Linked DNA regions of Homo sapiens: region 2 is linked to region 1. Evidence: fine-mapped expression QTL. A gene starts in region 1. The other region holds a variant in brackets. All regions are shown on one strand. Distances are between the middles of the regions. Region 1 holds the start of RHOT1 (ras homolog family member T1). Region 2 holds the start of LOC124903979 (a long non-coding RNA gene).

What was found.
Region 2: its variant is fine-mapped to the expression of RHOT1 in whole blood (INTERVAL, PIP above 0.99).

The regions. Positions count from the first base shown.
Region 1 is chr17:32,135,955-32,147,306 of GRCh38, forward strand. It overlaps RHOT1 (ras homolog family member T1), which reads left to right and starts at 6,548. Exons shown (of 20, transcript NM_001033566.3): 1 at 6,548-6,775. The coding sequence starts at 6,739. It overlaps LOC105371730 (a long non-coding RNA gene), which reads right to left and starts at 7,181. Exons shown (of 2, transcript NR_136413.1): 1 at 7,071-7,181; 2 at 5,272-6,759. RefSeq lists an enhancer at 5,879-6,048 and silencers at 6,509-6,738, 6,769-6,828.
Region 2 is chr17:32,238,236-32,249,587 of GRCh38, forward strand. It overlaps LOC124903979 (a long non-coding RNA gene), which reads left to right and starts at 5,249. Exons shown (of 2, transcript XR_007065709.1): 1 at 5,249-5,818. RefSeq lists a silencer at 2,555-2,849. The variant G/A (reference allele first, on the strand shown) is at 5,048.

The DNA of each region.
Region 1 (11,352 bases):
ATCTATATCCGGTATAACTATTCTTGTTTTATATTTTATTATACTGGAACAGCTCGTGTCCTTGGTCTCTTGCCTCGGCACCTGGGTGGCTTGCCACCCACAGTAGGTAGGCTAATCAATTTGCCCTTGGGAAGATGATGTAAGTCAGCAAAAGAATTCCTAATTTAAAATGTAGCTGTTAAGGGTGATATGTGAGCATGTTTAAGCAATGTGACAAATGCTTTACCTGCATCATTTTATTTAATCCTCAGAAGTGTCCTATGAAATAGCTCCATTTTGCAGATGAGGTTTATATTTTTCAGAAAGGTCAGTCACTTGCCCAACATTGCTAGTCAGTGTTACACAGCTAGCAAAGTGTTGGAGATAAACTGTAGACTCCAGAGCCCATGCTCTTAATCACTCCATAGACATTCAGGCCATTTGGAGGTAGGCTTCTCAATATCAATTATGTCTTAATTGAGGGTATTTGTTTTCCAATTTATCTGAAAGGAGCTCAAGAAAATTAAAAAGAAGACTGGATGCAACCTCATTAACAGATGAAGCTCTTGTCTGGAAATATACTTTCAACACTGACAGTTATAATCAAATGCCTTTTAATAAGTAATTGTGCTGAGTGATGTACCTTCAAGCGAAATCAAGCAAACAGGCAGAATCCATGTCCTCTAGAGATGGACCCTTGTGACTGACTATGCCAAAGACATGGATGTTTGAACAATGAACCAATAACGAGTGTGTTGAAAGGCAAGATAAAATACAGCATTTACCTGGTATCAAAGCATTGGACTTTTCCACTCCACCAGAGTGGGCCTGGCAGGAAAAGGAGGAAGGCATCCTGGAAGGAATGGGACACAAAAGTGAAGAAAACACAGATGATGGATGCTGCTTTGGGTTTAACTTGAAAGACCAAAGATAGGTGGGTCTGAAGCATGGGACTGATGCCAAGCCAAGTCTTATTTGGTTTCCTGCCCAGGACTCACCAATCAGAGATTGGTGAGAGACTCTGTCTAACTCACCAATCAGAGATTGGTGAGAGACTCTGTCTAACTCACCAATCAGAGATGGGGCCCCTGTTCCCACCCAATGTCAGTCATTTAACACACACTTTATCTTCTACCCAGCAGGCCTGCCCATTTGCCCTGGGTGTTCTGCTGTTCTGGAACTCAGAGAGAGGCTGTGTCACTAGGCATAAAGATGGATCCTCTTATCTCCTGGCGAAAGCACTTTGCCCTGACCTCCTCCCCTGCACAGTTGAGGAGGCATGAAGCCTGTATTGTGAGGGTAGAGCTCCTTCCTGGCATTCTAGAGGAAAATTCCATCAGTGCCTTCTAGATACCAATCTGTCCTCTTGGCCTTATCCAATCTATTTAATACATTGTATTCAATCTGTAATATCCCAACAGTAAATTCACTGCCAACAACTCTGTTCTTTGGCTTATGATTTGCTGCAGTATGTGTCATCATGAAGCTCTGTCCTCAAGCTCAGAGAGGTGTACAGAAGCCACTTCCCTTATAATTTATTTTATTTGATGTGTGGGTGGGAAGGGGGAGACTAAACCTCCTTATTCGCATCCTCCCTGGAATATTTCTTCATTATCTGCCAATGAACAAGGAGTGTGTCTTTCCTATCTCCCTCTTCCAACATTTATATATCACTGACCACACGCCAGGCACAATTCTAAGTGTTTTCCTAATATATATATATATATATATATATATATATATATATATATATATACACGTATACATGTATACGTGTATATATGTATACATGTATATACATATACACGTATATGTATATGTATATACATAAAAATATATGTATATACATAAAATATATATATATACATATATATGTATTTTTTTTTGAGACAAGTTCTTGCTCTGTCACCCAGTCTGGAGTGTAGTGGCACAATCACAGCTCACTGCAGCTTTGACCTCCTAGGCTCAAGTGATCGCCCACCTCAGCCTCCCAGGTAGCTGGGACTATAGGTGCATGCCATTATGCCCGGCTAATGAATCTTTTTTTTTTTTTTTTTGAGATGGAGTATTTCTGTGTTGCCCAGGCTGGAGTGCAGTGGCATGATCTCAGCTCACTGCAACCTCCACCTCCCAGGTTGAAGTGATTCTCGTGCCTCAGCCTCCCAAGTAGCTGGGATTACAGGTGCCCACCACCATGCCTGGCTAATTTTTGTATTTTTAGTAGAGATAGGGTTTCACCATGTTGGTCAGGGTGGTCTCGAACTCCTGACCTCAGGGATCCACCCACCTCATCCTCCCAAGTGCTGGGATTACAGGCGTGAGCCACTGTGCCCAGCCTTTCCTATTATATTAACTAATTTAATTTTCATAACAATCTCATGAGGTATGTCCTATTGTTATTCCCATTTGGCAGATGAGGCAAAGAGAAGTTAAATAATCTGTCCAGTGATGCACAGCTAGTAATTGGCACAACTGATGTTCAGATCTAGCAGGCAGACTCCAGCATCCTTAGTCTTTGTTGTTGTTGTTGTTTAAGAGACGGGGTCTTACTCTGTGGCCCAGACTGGAGTGCAGTGGTACAATCACAGCTCACTGCAGCCTCAACCTCCTAGGCTCAAGCAATCTTCCCACGTAGCTGGGACTACAGGTGTGCACCACCACGTCCAATTAATTCTTTAATTTTTTTTGTTTTCTTTTTTTTGGAGACAGAGTCTCGCTTAATCCCCCAGGCTGGAGTGCAGTGATGCGATCTCGGCTCACTGAAACCTCCGCCTCCCGCGTTCAAGAGATTCTCATGCTTCAGCCTCACAAATAGCTGGGATTACAGGCGCCTGCCACCACACCCGGCTAAGTTTTGTATTTTTAGTGAAGACAGGATTTTGCCATGTTGGCCAGGCTGGTCTCAAACTCCTGGCCTCAGGTGATCTGCCCACCTTGGCCTCCCAAAGTGTTGGGATTACAGGCGTGAGCCACGGCGGCTTAATTCTTTAAAATTTTTTGTAGAGACAGGGTCTCCTTGTGTTATTCAGGCAGGTCTCGAACTCCTGGGCTCAAGCAATCCTCTCATCCCCAGCCAAGCTTCCCTGCTTTAACCAGCGACCTGTGCTGTCTCCAGGAGAACATCAGAGTGACACCTAGTGGACGTTTGTTAACATCATAAGGAGGGAATAAAGTTCAAGGCAAGTCAGGGAGCCAGACTGGCAGAAGTATAGATGATCAGGAGATGGCTGCGGACTGTAGAAAGAAACTTACATTGCAGGGGAGGCAAACCCTGGCATACCAGACTCCCTCTCCCCAACTTTAGCAAGTGCTGGCCTCAGTTTGTACCAAACCATATCCATTGCTCACTGAAAGTGCTTGATATTGCCTCTTTTCTGCAGCTCTTGAGTTAGGTTTTTTTTTTTTAGATGGAGTCTCACTCTGTCACCCAGGCTCGAGTGCAGTGGTGCGATCTCAGCTCACTACAACCTCCACCTCCTGGGTTCAAGCGATTCTCCTGCCTCAGCCTCCCGAATAGCTGGGATTACAGGCATGCACCACCACGCCCAGCTAACTTTTGTATTTTTAGTAGAGACAGGGTTTCACCATGTTGGCCAGGCTGGTCTCAAACTCCTGAGCTCAAGTGATCCACCCGCCTCGGCCTCCCAAGGTGCTAGGATTACAGGTGTGAGCTATTGTGCCCGGCCTAGTCAGATTTTTATTTTTTTTTATTTAGAGACAGACTCTGGCTCTGTCACCCAGACTTGAGTGCAATGGTGCCATCATAGCTCACTGCAGCCTCCAACTCCTGGTCTCCAGTGATCCTCCCACCTCAGCCTCCCAACTGGGACTACAGGTGCATGCCACCACGCCCAGCTAATTTGTTTATTTTTTGTAGAGATGGGGTTTCAATGTTTCTCAGGCTGGTCTTGCACTCCTGGCCTCAAGAGATCCTCCCACCGCAGCTACCCCAAGCTTTGGGATTATAGGTGTTGAACCACCATACCTGGCTGGATATGGATTTTTAAGTAAGTTTTATTTACAAAGGAGTTCTTTGCAATATTGTATCTGTGATGTCCCTCTAAATAAATGCTTTTTCCAAGCCCCTGCCTACCAGACATTACCCAGTACACATCTACAACCCCACGAAGACCTTGTTACTGCTCACCCTCCTGGAGAAGCCCCAATGAGTCAACATTGTCATTAACTGGCAACGCTGATTGAGAGCTCTTAGGGATCTAGATTCTTCACAAAGCTGCATGGTGCAAGCAGTGCCCTAAAGAATTTGCCCCTCTGTAAAAGGCTTTTGTCCTCTGTGCTCTGATATTTGTGTAACTTGTTTTTTGTTTGTTTGTTTTTTAGGAAAAAGATTTACAATTCATTACATTATTCACATAAAATACATTATTTTATGAGCTCCTCCAAACAATTTCATAAGAGATCACAGCCTTCACTTGGTAGAGAGGAAACTGAGGCACAACTAGGTGACATGAGTTGCCTAGAGTCATGCACTAGGAATGGCAGAGCAAAGCTCAGCCTCAGCCATGCCGTCTGTGCCAGGTCATTGCGTCTCTGTGGGCCTTGCTTTTTTTTTTTTATCTACAGAGTAACGGGATTGGAATAGGAGCTCTGTCAGGGTTCTTCCAACTCAAACATTTTGTAACACTAAAATTCTGAGGGCTACTTTTCCCTGAAAGATCAGGTAACCAAGCCTCCTGAATTTCACATTTCCACTCATTGAGGTGTGGGGGGAGGAGGGAGATGAAAGCACCTTATTTACATCTACCCAGGAACGCGACTTCATTATCTCTCAGTGAACAAGGAGTATGTCTTTCCCATCTCCCTCTTTTTCCTAACACGGACAGGGATAGAGTTGTTTTTGAAAGGGCTTTCTCCCCTGTGCTCCTTATGGACATCAAATAACTAAGATGGTGAAATTCTGCAGTAAACACAACAACATATTTGCCTCAAAACCTGTGGATTAGGCTGGGCGCGGTGGCTCACGCCTGTAATCCCAGCACTTTGGGAGGCCAAGGCAGGCGGATCACGACGTCAGGAGATCGAGACCATCCTGGCTAACACGGTGAAACCCCGTCTCCACTAAAAATACAAAAAAAAAAAAAAAAAAATTAGCCGGGCGTGGTGGCGGACGCCTGTAGTCCCAGCTACTCGGGAGGCTGAGGCAGGAGAATGGCGTGAACCCAGGAGGCGGAGCTTGCAGTGAGCCGAGATTGCGCCACTGCACTCCAGCCTGGGCGACAGAGCGAGACTCCGTCTCAAAACAAAACCAAAACAAAACAAAAAATCTGTGGATTACAACTTTTTAGTGACTTTTTAATATAATAATGATAGCTGAGATCAGTAGAGCACACGCTCTGAGTCTGGCACTGTACCAAATGCTTGACAAGTATTATAGTATTTATTACTCACAACCATCTCAAGAGGAAGGTATTATCATCATTATTTCCATGCTACAGAAGAAGGAACAGTGGCTGAGGGAAGTAAAAATAAAAGCACTTAGTCGAGATCACAGAGCTATTATGTGGAGCCTAGATTCAAACCCAGGAAATTTGCCAGCAACTCTTAACTGCTGCAAGAGACCACATGACTTCTCCTAGGAGAAAGGGAAGTTGGTATTACGCACATTTCATTCCCTTTAAGTGTTTATTGTGTAATATTTAAGATAGAAAAAATGTACATTATGCACAGATAGTGCTTCCTCATTAATTTATGTATTTTATATTTCCCACTGTGTGCCAAGTATTAGGGATGTGATATATATTCGCACGCGTATGTATATATATATATTTGCCATTGTGTACCAAACATTAAGCATGTAACAACAAATTCCTCCAGATGGAGAGGGTCACGAGAAAATTAAGGCAATGTTAGAAAAATCATCTAGAGTTTATTATCGAGTGCCACCTCCGTGTCTAGCATTACGCTGGGTAAGCCTGAGTAAAGAAGAGTGTCCGAAAACCCTGCCATAAAATAAACTACATAGACAGAAAAAAAGTCACTTAGTTTGGTTATAAAGAAAGGAGTCTTGTTCACACAGCGTAAAAACGAATCTTATAATCGTATTTTATAAGCATCAGAGGCAAAAGCAACTAGGGTGACGGGCTTTGGGGAGTGGAAAGCGCCGGATCCTGGGAGCCAGTCGCCCTACTCGATCAAGCATTTTCTGACGGCCCTATCCAATAACGTGGGGACGCAGCTGAAAACCATGCAAGCTGATCGCTGCCCTCCCGGAGTTTATGGTCTGGTGAGAAGATCCCTGCTCTGAGTCACTGCCAAGCTCTAGCTATGTGACTTTGAACAGGGAATTTCTGTCCCTATCTATAAAATAAACGGGGTTAAACCAGGGAATCCGCCATTCAAATTCCTGGCCCAAGTGTCTCCGGGGTCGCGGTGCCCAAAGGAGGGTGGGCGAGGCTCCCTGGGCCTGCGCTGCGGCGGCCTGACAGCGGGAGCGCTGTTCCGGCGCAGAGCGCGTTCGCGTTCCGAAAGCGCGTGTCCCTCGCCGCGTGCCGTCGTCCCCGCCGCCGCCGCCGCCGCCGCCGCCGCCGCCGCCGCCGCCGCCGCCGCCACAGCCCGCTGGGCCGGAGGAGGCGGAGCTGGCGCTGTCCCGGCTCTCTTGCGGGGAAGCAACTGAGGGGGCGGCGCGGCGGGCCCCGGCGGCCGAAGAGGCTGGCAGGTGGCGCCGTGGGGTGGGTGCTCCTGGTGAGAGGAGTCCACTCCGTGCGTGCGGGCGGAGGCCGGCCCCCGAGAGCCGCCGACATGAAGAAAGACGTGCGGATCCTGCTGGTGGGAGAACGTGAGTCCGCACCCTCTGGCCGGCCCCTGAGTCCCTGCCCTCCCTGCCCCTGCAGCCCCTGTCGCCCCTGTCGCCCCTGCAGCCCCAACCTTTGCAGCCCCGGCCCTTCTCGCGCCTCACAGCTCCGCTCGCCTTTCTCCGCGTTCCTAGGCCTTCCAGCCCCTTCACTCTTCTCTTTTGGCTGGCCGCCGGCGGCCCTCACCCTGTCACCTCACCTGGGCCCTCCAGAGATCTCCTTTCCCTGTTCCCCAGCCGTCCTCCCAAGCCATGTCCCTATTAGCCCTAACCGCCCGACCTCATCCCTCCGAAGCTTCTCTCCTCCTTTTCCTCTTCGAACCCTGTCCTTCTGGGCCTCACAGTTTCCCAGGCCGCCTCCTTTCAGACCTTCTTGTCTTCTGGAGATTCCCTTATCACTGCCAGGCAGGTGCTGGAATAAGCAGACTGACCAATAGGGATTGCGTGAACCGGCTCCCGGGGAAGCTGGGGGAGGGGTGCAGAACTATTCGACTTGTGGGCAAGGTCAGGTTTCTGCATTTTTTTGGCACTCGCAGTCTTCACTCTCTCTATGTATTGACATTAAGATATGAGTAGTGGAAAGGGCCGGATCCTTTTTAGCAGTACTTGTACTTTGCATTGGACTAACTCCTCGTACTCGAGATATTTCATCAAAAATTTTTACTCAACTTCGAGTTATGCAAGCGCTCAATGAATTAGAATTATCTGGGGAGGGTCCAATTGTTGTTACCCTAAAGCGTAATCTTTGCCCTCTTTTTAAGCATTATTTATTCCATAGTTACTTCGTAGTTAACTTATTAATAACCACAGGCACACAGACATTTGATATCTCCCCCCACCCAGAAATTTCATACATTTCACCTTTTGAAAATATAATAAAGGAGAGTTCCCTCTGTTCACTGACATGAGGACGCAACAGCGGGGACTTCTTGATTTCACTCTGCAAGTTATGTAACTCAGTTGCTAGGACTAAAATAAGAAAGTGGGCCAGGGATAACTGGATTGTTTGTTTTAAAGAGTTAATACATTCGTTAATAGTCTGCCATTGCTGTTTCGAAGCATTCTGTTTTAAACCATTATTTCATTCTTGGTAACCCCTCAGGGTCACCGTGATGGAATCCCAAGGAAGAAAGTTAACACGTTTTTACCCTCTTCTGTAGTGTTCTTTGAGTTCATTGAAATTTCATCCACCTGCTGTTTGGAGAAATCTTCCTTTAGAATTAGAATTTAGGAGTAAGCTTAGCCAGCCATAGTTTACTTTTTGATTTGCAGTTGTAAATTTTTATTTTTATTTATAACTATATCTTAATCTGTATTTTTCATGGACTTCCTTGACAAGGTTCAGGAAGGTGTTATTTAACATATAATTCATGCTTATGCTTTTGGAGCAAGGTAGGGAAAGTGAGTAGACGACTTGCTTAAAAAACTGATCCTTAAATATATGATGAAATAGTTTGTTGTTGTTGTTGTTTTGAGACAGAGTCTCGCTCTGTCACCGAGGCTGGAGTGCAGTGCCTGGGATTACAGGCACTGTGGCTCATGCCTGTAATCCCAGCACTTTGGGAGGCCAAGGCAGGCAGATCACTTGAGGTCAGGAGTTCGAGACGAGCCTGGCCAACATGGTGAAACCCCGTCTCTACTAAAAATACGAAAATTAGCCGGGTGTGGTGGCACACACCTGTAGTCCCAGCTACTCTGGAGGCTGAAGCAGGAGAATCACTTGAACCCTGGAGGAGGAGGTTGCAGTGAGCTGAGACATGCCAGCCTGGGCAGCAGAGCAAGACTCTGTCTGAAAAAAAACCTTTAATAATGCTCCCACACAGCTGGGTGAGGTGGCTTATACCTGTATTCCAAGCACTCTGGGAGGCTGAGGCAGGAGGATCACTTGAGGCCAAGGAGTTTGAGACCAACCTGGGCAATGTAGTGAGATCCTGTCTCTACAAAAAATTTAAATATTAATGGCTGGGCACAGTGGCTCACTCCTGTAATCCCAGCACTTTGGGAGGCTGAGGCAGGAGGATTGCTTGAACGCAGGAGTTTGAGACCAGCCTGGGCAACATAGTGAGACCCCGCCTCAAAAAAAAAAAACCACAACACTATTAGCTAGGCATGGTGGTGTGCACCTGTAGTCCTAGCTACTGGGGAGGCTGAGATGAGAGAATTGCTTGAACCCAGAAAATCGAGGTTGCAGTGAGCCATGATCACACCACTGCACTTCAGCCCAGGTGACAGAGCAAGACTGTCTCTTAAAGAAAAAATTAATTTTTAATGGCTGGGCACAGTAGCTCATGCCTGTAACCCCAACACTTTGGGAGGCCAAAGTGGGCAGATCACCTGAGGTCAGGAGTTTGAGACCAGGAAACTGACCAACATGACGAAACCCAGTCTCTACTAACAATACAATAATTAGTCAGCTGTGGCAGCACGCACCTGTAATCCCAGCTACTCAGGAGGCTAAGGCAGGAGAATGGCTTTCACCCAGGAGATGGAGGTCGCAGTGAGCTGAGATCACACCACTGCATTCCAACCTGGGGGACAGAGTGAGACTCTGTCTCAAAAAATATATATATATATTGATAATAGTAAACAGGATAGTTTTCATTTTAATGGAGTCTTCTTTTTAAATTAAATTGAGATATATTTGTTTTCTACTAGTTAAGTTCCTTAAGAAAATGGAACTGTTATCTTCTTTTAAAATGAATCTGGCAGATCTTTAACTGGTTTGTCTAACTCTGATTATCATGGCAACCTCTGCCAAACTACTTCAAAATTCCACTGGCTTTGGCCTTGACTTTTGCAATATCTCCCTTAACCAGTCTTTCTGCTCCTGCTTTCCTCCATTTTCCGTGGAGCAGGCAGATTCATTTTTATTTTTTTATTTTTAATTTTTTTACCCTGAAGTATAGATTCAAGCTGTCCTGAATATATACAGATTCATATTTAGAAAATATCTCAGATTCTGCTATGCACCTTAAAAATCATCTAATGAGCCAGGTGTGGTGGCTCATGCCTATTATCTCAGCACTTTGGGAGGCCGAGGCAGGTGGATCACTTGAGGTCAGGAGTTCGAGACCAGCCTGGGCAACATGACGAACCCTCATCTCTACAAAAAATACAAAAAATTAGCTGGGTGAAGTGGCGTGCACCTGCAGTTCCAGCTACTTGAGAGGCTGAGGTGGGAGAATCACCTGAGCCCAGGAGTTCGGGGCTGCTGTGGGTCATGACTGCACCCCTGCACTCCAGCCTGGTTGACAGGGTGAGAATCTGTCTCAGAAAATAGATGTATATCATCCAGTGATTTCTACTTTCACTTAGAATAAAGTCCAAACTTTTTAATGCAGTCCTGTAAGGCCCTCCACAATCTAGCCCTTACTTCCCTTTTATGCTACTCTCTCCTTCATTGCTCTCTCTATAAGAAGGCTCTGACCTGGGCATTATCCCCATAACCATGTATATTTGTACATTTTTTGTCCTGTCTCTTGGGCTAGAAAAGAATCATCATGAAGGCAGGGGATTTGTCTTCCTTCTTGCTGTATCCCCAGTGGCTAGAACAGACCTGGCACAAAAGAGGCACTCAGGTATTTCTTAAAAGAATGAATGAGTTCAAGCTAGTTCAGTTTGTTTAGACTTTCCTTGTTTTCCAAACCACTCCTCTTTGTCATAAAAATTTGATCATTTTTCTGTATTATTATTATTATTATTTTTATTTTATTTTTTTTGAGATGGAGTCTCGCTTTGTCGCCCAGGCTGGAGTGCAGTGGCGCGATCTCGGCTCACTGCAAGCTCCACCTCCCAGGTTCAGGCCAGTCTCCTGCCTCAGTCTCCCGAGTAGCTGGGACTACAGGTGCCCACCACCACGCCCGGCTAATTTTTTTTTTTTTTTTTTTGTATTTTTAGTAGAGATGGGGTTTCACCATGTTAGGCAGGATGGTCTCGATCTCCTGACTTCATGATCTGCCTTCCTCGGCCTCCCAAAGTGCTGGGATTACAGGAGTGAGCCACCGCGCCCGGCCTATTATTATTTTTTTGAGACAGGGTCTTGCTCTGTCGCCCAGGCTGGAGTACAGTGGTGCCATCTTGGCTCACTGTAACCTCAGCCTCCCAAGTAGCTGGGATGACAGGCATGCACCACCATGTCTGGCTAATTTTTGTAAATTTTTTTTTTTTTTTTTTTTTTTTTTAGTAGAGAGGGTTTCACTGTGTTGGCCAGGCTGGTCTGGAACTGCTGACCTCAAGTGATCCACCCACCTCGGCCTCCCAAATACTGGGATTATAGGTGTGAACCACCATGCCTGGCCTGCTCTTTTTTTATTTTTTTGAGGCAGAGTCTCACCCTGTCACCCAGGCTGCAGTGCAGTGGCACAATCTCGGCTCGTTACAGCATCAGCCTCTCAGGTTCAAGCGATTCTCCTGCCTCAGCCTCCCAAGTAACTGGGATTACAGGCGCATACCACCACGCCTGGCTAATTTTTGTATTTTTAGTAGAGACAGGGTTTCACCATGTTGGCCAGGCTGGTTTTGAACTCCTGACCTCAAATGATCCACCCACCTTGGCCTCCTGA
Region 2 (11,352 bases), 100 kb after region 1:
TGCACTGGCTATTCTCTGCTTGAAACACTCTTCCCTCTTTTTTTAAAAAGCTGCCTCATGCTTGTCACTTAATCTCAGTTTAAATGTTACCTCCTCAAAGTGGAGCCTTTCCAGATTGTGTAAAGAAACCATCTGGAAACTCAATGTGACAGTCGAGTGTGGTGGTTCACACCTGTAATCCCAGCACTTTGGGAGGCTGAGGTAGGTGGATCACTTGAGGCCAGGAGTTCGAGACCAGCCTGACCAACATGGTGAAACCCTGTCTCTACTAAAAATACAAAAATTAGCTGGGCATGGTGGCGGGTGCCTGTAATCCCAGCCACTCGGGAGGCTGAAGCAGGAGAATCACTTGAACCCAGGCGGCAGAGGTTGCAGTGAGCTGAGATCACACCACCTACTCCAGCCTGGGCGACAAAGCGAGACTCTGTCTCAAAACAAACAAACAAAAACTCTATCTGACATCACCTTGATTGTCAGCATCTCACCACCAGCCATCCTCCCTCCCTCCCTCCCTTTCATCCTATCTCGTTACCTCCCTTCCATCCTCCCTCCCTCCCTCTCTCATTCCCTCCCTCCCTCCCTTCCATCCTCCCTCCCTCTCTCGTTCCCTCTCTCCCTCCCTCCCTCTCTCTTTCCCTCTCCCTCCCTCCCTCCCATCCTCTCTCCCTCCCTTACTCCCTTCCTTCCTCCCTCCCTCCCTTCCATCCTCCCTCCCTCCTTCTCTCGTTCCCTCTCTCCCTCCCTTCCTTCCTTTTCCATGTGTGCTCCTTCATTTGTTGAGGGTCTCCCTCCTGCTTCAATGTAGGCTTTATAAGAGTAGGGCTTTGGGCCGGGCGTGGTGGCTCACGCCTGTAATCCCAGCACTTTGGGAGGCTGAGGTGGGTGGATCACCTAAGGTCAGGAGTTCGAGACAAGCCTGACCAACATGGAGAAACCCCGTCTCTAATAAAAATACAAAATTAGCCAGGCATGGTGGTGCATGCCTGTAATCCCAGCTACTCGGGAGGCTGAGGCAGGAGAATTGCTTGAACCTGGAGGCGGAGGTTATGGTGAGCCGAGATCGTGCCGTTGCGCTCTGGCCTGGGCAATAAGAGCAAAACTCCATCTCAAAAAATAAAAAATGAAAATAAAAAAAAGAGTAGGTCTATGACTGTCTTAATCACCACTTTATATTCAGGGCCTAGAACAATACTTGGTACATAGTCGATGCTCAGTAAATATGTTTTGAATCAATGAGTAAATGGACAAATAAATGAACTTTAAGCCATTTGCCTTAAAACTCTATGAAAGTCAGTGCAGCTTATTGGACTGAGTGAGGAAATAAAGCTAAAGGACAACCAAAATATTTCCTGCAGAGCTGGCTCCAACAACTGAGCTGTGGGGAAGTGCGTCCACAAAATCAATGACACAATGTCAGGGACTTGCACAATTCAGAGCCAGGGGTCACAGGCCTCAGACTTGGGGTCTGAGCCTTTCTTCAAGTCGTCTGGTCAACTAGGCCTCTTGGCCAGGGCTCAGTGATCTCTCTTCTACTGCTACACTTAGTTTATCACAAGGGATTCTGTTCTGCTTGGTCATTCTTTCCTTCAGAAACATGTACTTGGAGCCTCCTTTGTATAAAGTGCTGGGCTGTATGTGGTGAGAAATAGAGATGAAATAGTTATGGGGGAGATGCCTGATTCAAAGATCTTCCAATACAATAGGGAGAGGTAATATGTAAATAAGCATCTACTATAGGTAGAAAAATAAGACCTATAAGAGATAAAATCAAGTGCAGGCCAGGCGCGGTGGCTCACGCCTGTAATCCCTGCACCTTTGGAGGCCGAGGCAGGTGGATCACCTGAGGTCTGGAGTTCAAGACCAGCCTGGCCAACATGGTGAAACCCCATCTCGACAAAAATACAAAAATTAGCCGGGCATGATGGCAGATGCCTGTAATCCCAGCTACTCGGGAGGCTGAGGAGGCAGGAGAATCGCTTGAACCTGGGAGGTGGAGGTTGCAGTGAGTCGAGATCGCGCCATTGCTCTACAGCCTGGGCGAAAGAGCGAGACTCCATCTCAAAAAAAAAAAAAAAAAAAAACAAATGCAATGGGAATTCAAGCAGAGGGGAGATTTTCTGCTGTTGAGGAGCTCCCAGAAAGCTTTTATGGAGGAGGTGGTGTTCACCTTGCCCCATAACAATTCATACATAAAGAATATTTAGTTAGTTTCATTTGGCCTGAAAGAATTCAGGTACCTGTGTGCCTCACGCTTCTGGGGCTGGAGATCAGTAATCACTTCACTGGATAAATTTCCTCCAGTTTGGTATGTAAAAATTGAGACACATACTTTCTATAAAAACTGTCAAAGTACAGCTGAATTTGAAAAAATATGCTGTGTAATAATGTGCTTGGAACAGAATAGGTGTTCATTTCAAGCAGCATGAACGCTGTGCTCACCTGTTATGTGTAAGTGGCAGCTGAAACATGTACCAGATTATAACTCTGCCACCAGCCAGGTGCAGCTGTAGCATCTTACATTGTCATCAGGATTCTTCCACATTTTAGGATCCACGTTTTGGGAGTGAGAGTTACTGTTTGCCAAAAATGACCTCCCAAGCCCAAATGAAGAGGACCTACTAGCGCAGCAGTCAGCGAGAAAGAATTGGGAGATGCCTGTCACTGGCAGAGAGAGCCTTCCTTATGTGGTCAGGACCATGGAAAGCCCAAAGCCAAGGGACCTGGGAAGTCAGCCAAGGACGCTTGCCTGGGTGTCTCCTGGCTGGTTTCTCTGTGCTGTGGAGCCACCTATGTTTAGAACCTCTTGCCGCGCTCCCTCTGCTGAGCTTATATTTATGCTAGATCAAATGTTTAAACTGCTTTTCTCTTTGTGGATCACAAATTTTAGAACAGAAAATGCGGGTTCCGGAGGGTGTGAGAGACAGGGACAACCATATGTATTGCTTCAGTAGATGCTTCAGAGAAAGAAGACACTTAGTTCTCTAGTTGTTCACCCAACCCAATACGGTTTCTGCTCCTTAAGCTACATTCCTATAAAGATTAGCTTTCAGCTGCTACCACCAAGAAACAGTTCAAGTGCTGCTTATGTTGTATTTTAACTAAAGATCTCAAGAACAAAAAGAAATCCCTAGATGCTGACATTCCAAGCAAACTTAGGTCAGGGGTGGAGGCGGGGAATTGACAGATAAAGATTTCGGTGAGCAGGCAGTTCTCACCTTAGGTGAGTTCACAGTGTGCAGGGGTGCTTGGTGGGATGGTATCCATTTCTTTCATCTTTGAGAGATTTAAGGGGTGCTTACAATAAGGGGATACCCAATCTGCCTATCCTGACACATTCAACACGAGTTCTTAAATTCTCAGCTAATGGGTTGGATTCCCATTCATTTTATAGGCAGGATGGCTCTATTTGGATGACCCTTCTCAAAAAGTAAAAACAACAAAGGCAAATAAATCCTTCCGAGAGAGAGTATGAGGCTATGGCAGACAAGGTAAAATGCCTGTCACAGGAGATAAATTATTTTGCTCATTAACAAGTCATTTGTCCTTTGATTTCTCAAAGCCCTAGAGAAACAGGAGCTCAGCTGACAATGACCTGAGGGGACCCCTACAGTGCTTCAAACAGTGGATGGAGGAGGAGATGCCTTCCTGGTTAAGAAATTATCCCTGAGCCCTTGTAGAGGACAGTCCAGCACAGGAAATTCTGGAACTACAAGATGAAAATGTGTGCCAGCATGCTTCTACTTTCAGGGTACAGTCTGAGGCCCTAGGGAGGAGGAGTTCCTCAAGTGCTTTGACCTCTTGCCAGGACAAAGACGGAGAAGTATTTAGAAGCATCTGAATTTGTTAGCTCTTCAGTTTTCCTCCTCCACTCCCTACCCTGCACACAGAGCCTCAGAAGGACAGACCAGCTTCACCCCCTTACCAGCAATTACTGAAGAATCACACCCCACCCACCTCAGGATCACTGATCTCCTTCCTATATGGGAACCCTGACCCTTGGAGAAAAACCGCTGACCTACAAACTCCCCACATTCACCTAGAGAGCACCAGAGCAGAGTTCTGAGTGAGATAAGCAGTCCTTTAGGGGGATCTGTTTTTCCAGCTCTCATTTTTCCCCCCTTATTTCCTTTATCTCTAGAATTCTAAGAGCTGTACTGTTCATTGTTTCTACCCATCATTATTAAGGGAGAGATATGGAAACATTCCCATGGTAACAGTTTCATCTCAAAATATCTGAATGCTATTAGCTGCCTTTCCACTCCAGGGAAAAGATGAGATTTTTTTTTAAAAAAAGAAATCTTTATTCTCAGGATATAGTTGACAGGTCCTCTCCACACTGCAGGGAGGCCTGCCCAGATCAGTGGAGATGGGAAAGGGCTCATAAAGCCAAATTTGTTTCTTAGCTGACTTCACTTCCTGAACATTTCAAAAACTTATTATTACATGGTTCTGACACCGACCCAGAGAATTGCTGGTGGAAGTACTGATGAAAACACCAACATCTCTGGGGGAAGTCATCAACTGGGAGCATATGAGATGGGCCAGCACAGACTTGGCTCAAAGACCCACAGACCACACTGTGTTACTGGAGAGCAACAGGTTTGAACAAACTCAGAGGTATGCGCTGGTTGCCATCAGAAAGCTGGGGAGAGAAAATGGGATAGGAAGCGTTGTACCTCATGTTCATGACACGCTTTATGGCTGGCCAAGGGCTTTTCCTATTGAAATGGGATGATGGAGGAGATAGGACACATTTATCTTAAACATGCATCTTAATTATCTATTGCTGGCGGGGTGTGGTGGCTCACACCTGGAATCCCAGCACTTTGGGAGGCCAAAGCGGGTGGATCACTTGAGCCCAGGAGTTCGAGACCAGCCTGAGCAACATGGTCTCTATCCATCTCTACAAAAAGTTAAAAAATTAGCCGGGTATGGGACTGCACGCCTGTAGTCCCAGCTACTCAGGGGGCTGAGGTGAGAGGATCTCATGAGCTGAGGAAGCAGAGGTTGCAGTGAGTTGAGATTGTGCCACTGCTCTCTAGCCTGA[G/A]TGACACAGCAAGACCCTATCTCAAAAAAATATATTTTATATATATAATATATATAATATTATGATATATATTATATAAAAATTATATATATAATATATAATATATGATATATCATATATGATATATGATATATCATATATCATATATATCATATATCATATATATAGCTGCATGACAAATTATTCCAAAACTTGGCAGCTTAAAATAAACATGTTATCTCACAGTCTCTGTGGGTCAGGAATTTGGGAGCAATTTAGCTGGGTGATTCTGGCTCCAGGTCACTAATTAGATTGTATTCAGACTGTCAACCAGGGCTGCAGTCACCTGAAGGCTTGACTGGGGCTGGGAGATCCCTTTCCAAGATAGCACATTAGCCATTGGCAGGAGGCCTCAGCTCCTCACCACATGGGCCTCTCTTCACAGCGCTGCTTGAATGACATGGCAGTTGGCTGACCCTGGAGCAAGTGACCCAAGACATAGAAAACAGGAGGAAGCTGCACTGTCTTGTTTGACCTAGTCTCAGAGGGCACACATCATTGCTTCTGCCATATTCTGTTCTATAGAAGCATGTCACTAAGTCCAGCACACATGTTTGGGGAGGGGAATCGAGCCACCTCTTGAAAGGAGAAGTATCAAGGACTCTGTGAACATGTTTTAGGACTATGATGTCATGGCAGTTATGAAAACTAATGTGTCAGTGCTGTATGTACTGATATGAAGCAATCTCCAAGATGTATCTTCAGTGACAACAGCATGATGCAGAACGCTAGGTAAGTCTGGATACTATTTGCAGTTTTAAAAAGGGAGGAGGGAGCCAGGCGCGGTGGCTCACGCCTGTAATCCCAGCACTTTGGGAGGCCAAGGCGGGTGGATCACAAGGTCAGGAGATTGAGACCATCCTGACTCACACAGTGAAACCCCGTCTCTACTAAAGAAACACAAAAAATTAGCCAGATGTGGTGGCGGGCACCTGTAGTCCCAGCTACTTGGGAGGCTGAGGCAGGAGAATGGCCTGAACCCGGGAGGTGGAGCTTGCGGTGAGCCAAGATCGCAACACTGCACTCCGGCCTGGGCAACAGAGCGAGACTCTGTCTCAAAAATAAATAAATTAATTAATTAATTAATAAAAAAGGGAGGAGGGATAAATATGCAGTTATGCATAGACTACCTCTCAGAGGACATACAATAAACTGGCCTCAAGGAGGAGGGCTGGGGACAGGTGGGAGAGAGATTTGTTTTCTGTACCTTTTGGATTTTATTTGAGCAAGTATTACTCTTTGATAATAAAATTTAATTTCAAAAATAGATTAAAATAACATAGAAATAAATAACATTGTTGAAAGAACTTAGAATGACCAGTTTGAGATGGAATTTTTTTTTTTTTGAGGTGGGGTTTCACTCTTGCCCAGCAGGGAGTACAGTGACACGATCATAGTTCACTGCAGCCTCGCCCTCTCAGGCTCAAGCACTCCTCCCACCTCAGCCTCCCAAGAAGCTGGGACTACAGGCACATGCCACCACACCTGACGAATTTTAAAAAATTTTTAGAAGAGGTGAGGTCTTGCTAGATTGCCCAGGCTCAAATTCCTGAGTTAAAGCAGTCCTCCTGCCTCAGCCTCCCAAAGTGCTGGGATTACAGGCATAAGCCATTGTGCACCTGGTTGGAATTCACTTTTTAAAGCTATTGGGGCCAGCAGTGAGCTATGATTGTGCCTGGGTGACAGAGCAAGACCCTGTCTTGAGGAAAAGAAAAGAATAAAACTATCAGGGTAGATGATTTTAGGGGATTGGTTTGCTTGCTTTCTTGCTTGTTTTCTTGGAAGCAAGTGTACTTTCTTGGCAGGCATGTTTTGAGACAGGAGGCTATAAGCAAGATGTTGAAGGAAAACAGACCAAGCTCTCTGAAGGAGAGCACTTGGAAGAGAATCTCGTCCAGTTCTCATCCCGTGCATGCCCACCTACCTGGACTTGCACATATCTGCTATATTTTCCCTTCTGTGACTACAGAGAAACTGTCCACAGGCAGCTCCTTCACTTACGCATTAGAGTCTGGCCTCTGTCGTCTGCATCCTCCAGCAATTCCCCCTGCCTTTCTTGGATCTTTGATTTGTGTTCCTCTGGATTTATTAACAAACAAACAAACAAACATTACTTCTCCCATCTGAAAAAAAAAATCTCTTCGTCCGCATTTCTCTGTTCCCTTTATAGCTTGCTTGAAAGAGTTTCCTCAGTGTCTCCTATTCTGTCTCTTTTCAGAACCTGAGATATAGCTCACACTCCATAAAATTCACCTTTTTAGCATGTACAATTCAGTGGTTTTTAGTACAGTCACAAACTTGTGCAACCGTCACCACTATCTCATTTCATCACTCCCGAAAGAAACTCTGTACCCATTAGCAGTCACTCCCCAATCCTCCTTTCTCCGAACCCCTGGTAATCACTAATCTACTTTCTGTCTCTACGGATTTGCCTCTTCTAAATATTTTATATCAATGGAATCATACAATATGTGGATCTTTGTGACTAGCTCCTTTCAGATTGCATAACGTTTTCAAGGTTCATCTGTATGAACCTTGTATCAGCATGTATCAGCATTCCATTCCTTTTCATGGATGAGTAATGTTTCATTGTATGGAAATATCACATTTTGTTTATCGTTCATCAATTTATGGATATTTGGGCCGCACGGTGACTCACGCCTGTAATCCCAGCACTTTGGGAGGCCAAGGCAGGCGGATCACTTGGGGCTGGAGTTCGAGACCAGCCTGGCCAACATGGCAAAACCCTGTCTCTACTAAAAATACAAAATTAGCCAGGTGTGGTGGTGCATGCTTGTGATTCTAGCTACTGGGGAAGCTGAGGCATGAGAATCACTTGGACCCAGGAGGTGGAGGTTGCAGTGAGCCGAGATCACCTGGGCAACAGAACAAGACTCTGTCTCAAAAAAAAAAAAATTATGGATATTTTGGGTTGTTTCCGCCTTTTCATTATTATCAATAATGCTGCTACAAACATTCATATACAAGTTTTTGTATGGGCATATGTTTTCAATTTTCTTTTCTTTTTTTATGACAGGGTTTCACTCTGTTGCCCAGGCTGCAGTACAGTGGCATGATCTCGGCTCACTGCAACCTCTGCCTCCCAGGCTCACACGATCCTTCCAGTTCAGCCTCCCCAGTAACTGGGACCACAGGCACAGGCCACCACACCCAGCTTTTTTATTCTTTCTTTCTTTCTTTCTTTTTTGCAGTTTTGCTCTTGTTACCCAGGCTGGAGTGCAATGGTGCAATCTCGGCTCATCGCAACCTCCACCTCCCAGGTTCAAGCGATTCTCCTGCCTCAGCCTCCCAAGTAGCTGGGATTACAGGCATGTGCCACCATGCCTGGCTAAGTTTTTTTGTATTTTTAGTAGAGACAGGGTTTCTCCATGTTGGTCAGGCTGGTCTTGAACTCCCGACCTCAGGTGATCAGCCCGCCTCAGCCTCCCAAAGTGCCAGGATTACAGGTGTGAACCACTGTGCCCGGCTAGTCTTTCTTTCTTTTCCTTTTTTTTTTTTTTTTTTGTTTTTTTTTTTTTGGCGGAAACACAGTCTTGCCATGTTGCCCAGGCTGATCTCCAACTCCTGGGCTCAAGCGATCCTCCCTCCTTGGTCTCCCAAAGTGCTGGGATTAGGCGTGAGCCACCACACCAGGCCTCGGATTTTCTATACATAAGATCATGTCATCTGCAATTAGAGATAGATTTATTCCTTCCTTTCCAAAGTATATGTCTTTTATTTATTTTTCTTTTTTAATTGCCCGGCCTAGACCCCCCAGTACAATGTTAAGTACAAACGACAAGAGCAGACATCCTTGTTCTGTTCTTGATCTTAGGGGGAAAACATTCAGCCTTTTCAGTAGTAAGTTGTCGGTTAGCTGTGGCTTTTCTCTCTCTCTCTTTTTTTTTTGAGACAGGGTCTTGCTCTGTCATCCAGCCTGGAGTGCAGTGGTGTGATCTTCGTTTACTGCAACCTCCTCCTCCTGGGCTCAAGCAAGCCTCCCAGCCCCCAAGTGTCTGGGATCACAGGCACACACCACCACGCCCGGCTAATTCTGTTTTTTTTTTTTTTTTTCTTTTCGGAGACGAAGTCTTGCTGTGTCATCCAGGCTACAGTACAGTGGTGCAATCTCGGCTCACTGCAACCTCCCCCTCCCGGGTTCAAGCAATTCTCTTGTCTCAGCCTCCCAAATAGCTGGGATTACAGGCACGTGCCACCATGCCCAGCTAATTTTTGTATTTTTAGTAGAGACAGGGTTTTGCTATGTTGGCCAGGCTGGTCTTGAACTCCTGACCTCAAGCGATCCGCCCGCCTCGGCCTCCCAAAGTGCTGGGATTATAGGGGTGAGCCACCGCACGCAGCCTCCGGCTAATGTTTGTATTTTTTAGTAGACAGGGTTTCACCATGTTGCCCAGGCTGAGCTGTGGGTCTTTCATAGATGTCTTTTATCAGATTAAACCAATTCTCTTCCTAGTTTGTTGAGTGTTTTATTTATAATGAAGCAACATTGGATTTTATCAAGTGCTTTTTTTCATTTACTGAAATGATCATTTGTTTTTTGTCCTTTATTCCATTCATACAGTGTGTGTATTACATTGATTTTTGTATGATGAACCAATCTTGCATTTCTGGGAAAATCCCATTTGGTCATGGTATATACTCCTTTTTATATATTGTTAGATTCAGTTTGCTTGTATTTTGTTGAGGATGTTTGCATCTATAGCATAAGGTGTATCATTGTGTAGTTTTCTTTTTTTTTTTTTTTTTTTTTTTGAGACGGAGTCTCGTTCTGTCGCCCAGGCGGGAGTGCTGTGGCGCGATCTCCGCTCACTGCAAGCTCCGCCTTCCGGGTTCACGCCATTCTCCTGCCTCAGCCTCCCAAGTAGCTGGGACTACAGGCGCCCGCCACTGCGCCCGGCTAATTTTTTGTATTTTTAGTAGAGACGGGGTTTCACCGTGTTAGCCAGGATGGTCTCGATCTCCTGACCTCGTGATCCGCCCGCCTCGGCCTCCCAAAGTGCTGGGATTACAGGCGTGAGCCACCGCGCCCGGCCGGTGTAGTTTTCTTGTGATGTCTCTGTCTAGTTTTGTTATCCAAGTAACACTTTTCTTTTTTTTTCTGAGATGGAGTCTCACTCTATCTCCCAGGCTGGAGTGCAGTGGCGTGATCTTGGCTCACTGCAAGCTCCACCTCCCTGGTTCACACCATTCTCCTGCCTCAGCCTCCTGAGTAGCTGGGACTACAGGCGCCTGCCACCACACCCGGCTAATTTTTCGTATTTTTAGTAGAGACAGCGTTTCACTGTGTTAGCCAGGATGGTCTCCATCTCCTGACCTCGTGATCCACCTGCCTCGGCCTCCCAAGATGCTGGGATTACAGGTGTGAGCCACCGTGCCCGGCCCCAAGTAACACTTTTCATGGTAATACTGGCCTCACAGAATGAGTTGGGAAGTGTTCTCCCCTTTTCTATTTTTTGGAAGAATTTTTGAAGAGATTGATGTTCCTATTCTGTCTTGAGCCACTCCTCCCAGCTTGTTACCTCCCCTACCATACCGAAACTGCTCTTGTAAAGGTCTCCAATGTCCTCCACATTGCCAAATTCAACAATCAGTTCTCAGCCATCGTCTTACCACTCAGCAAGAGCATCTGATCTCAGCCATCGTCTTACCCTCAGCAACAGCATCTGATCTCAGCCATTATCTTACCCTCAGCAACAGCATCTGACACATTTCCTTTCTCCTCGGAACACTGTCTGCTTCTGGCCTCCACAATCTCCTGGTTTTCTTTCTGCCTCACTGGCCACTATTTTCCGGGCTTCTTTGCTGGATTGTCTTCCTCTATCAGATATCTTAATGGTGAAGAGACACAGGGCTGAGTCCTTGACACCTTTTTTCTGTCTTTTCTCAGATTTTTTGTAATTTTATTTCTCTCCTAAATTTAAACACCAACTATATGCTGAAGCCTCCCAAATTTAGAGCCCAAATATGGTCTCTCTCTTTATCTTTAGATTTATATATCCTCTGCCTATTAGACACCTTACCTTGGATGCTGAATGTATATCTCAAACTTAACATGTCCAAAATTAAACTTTTGATCTATTCCACCAAAATCTGCTATGCCCACCATCTTCCCCATCATTATTAACCACAACTTTAGCTTTTCAGTTGATCAGTCCAAAAATATCCGAGTCATCCTTATTGGATACTTTCTTTCCCTCACTCCCTACAGTCATTCTATTAGCAAATCCTGTTGGGCCTACCTTCAA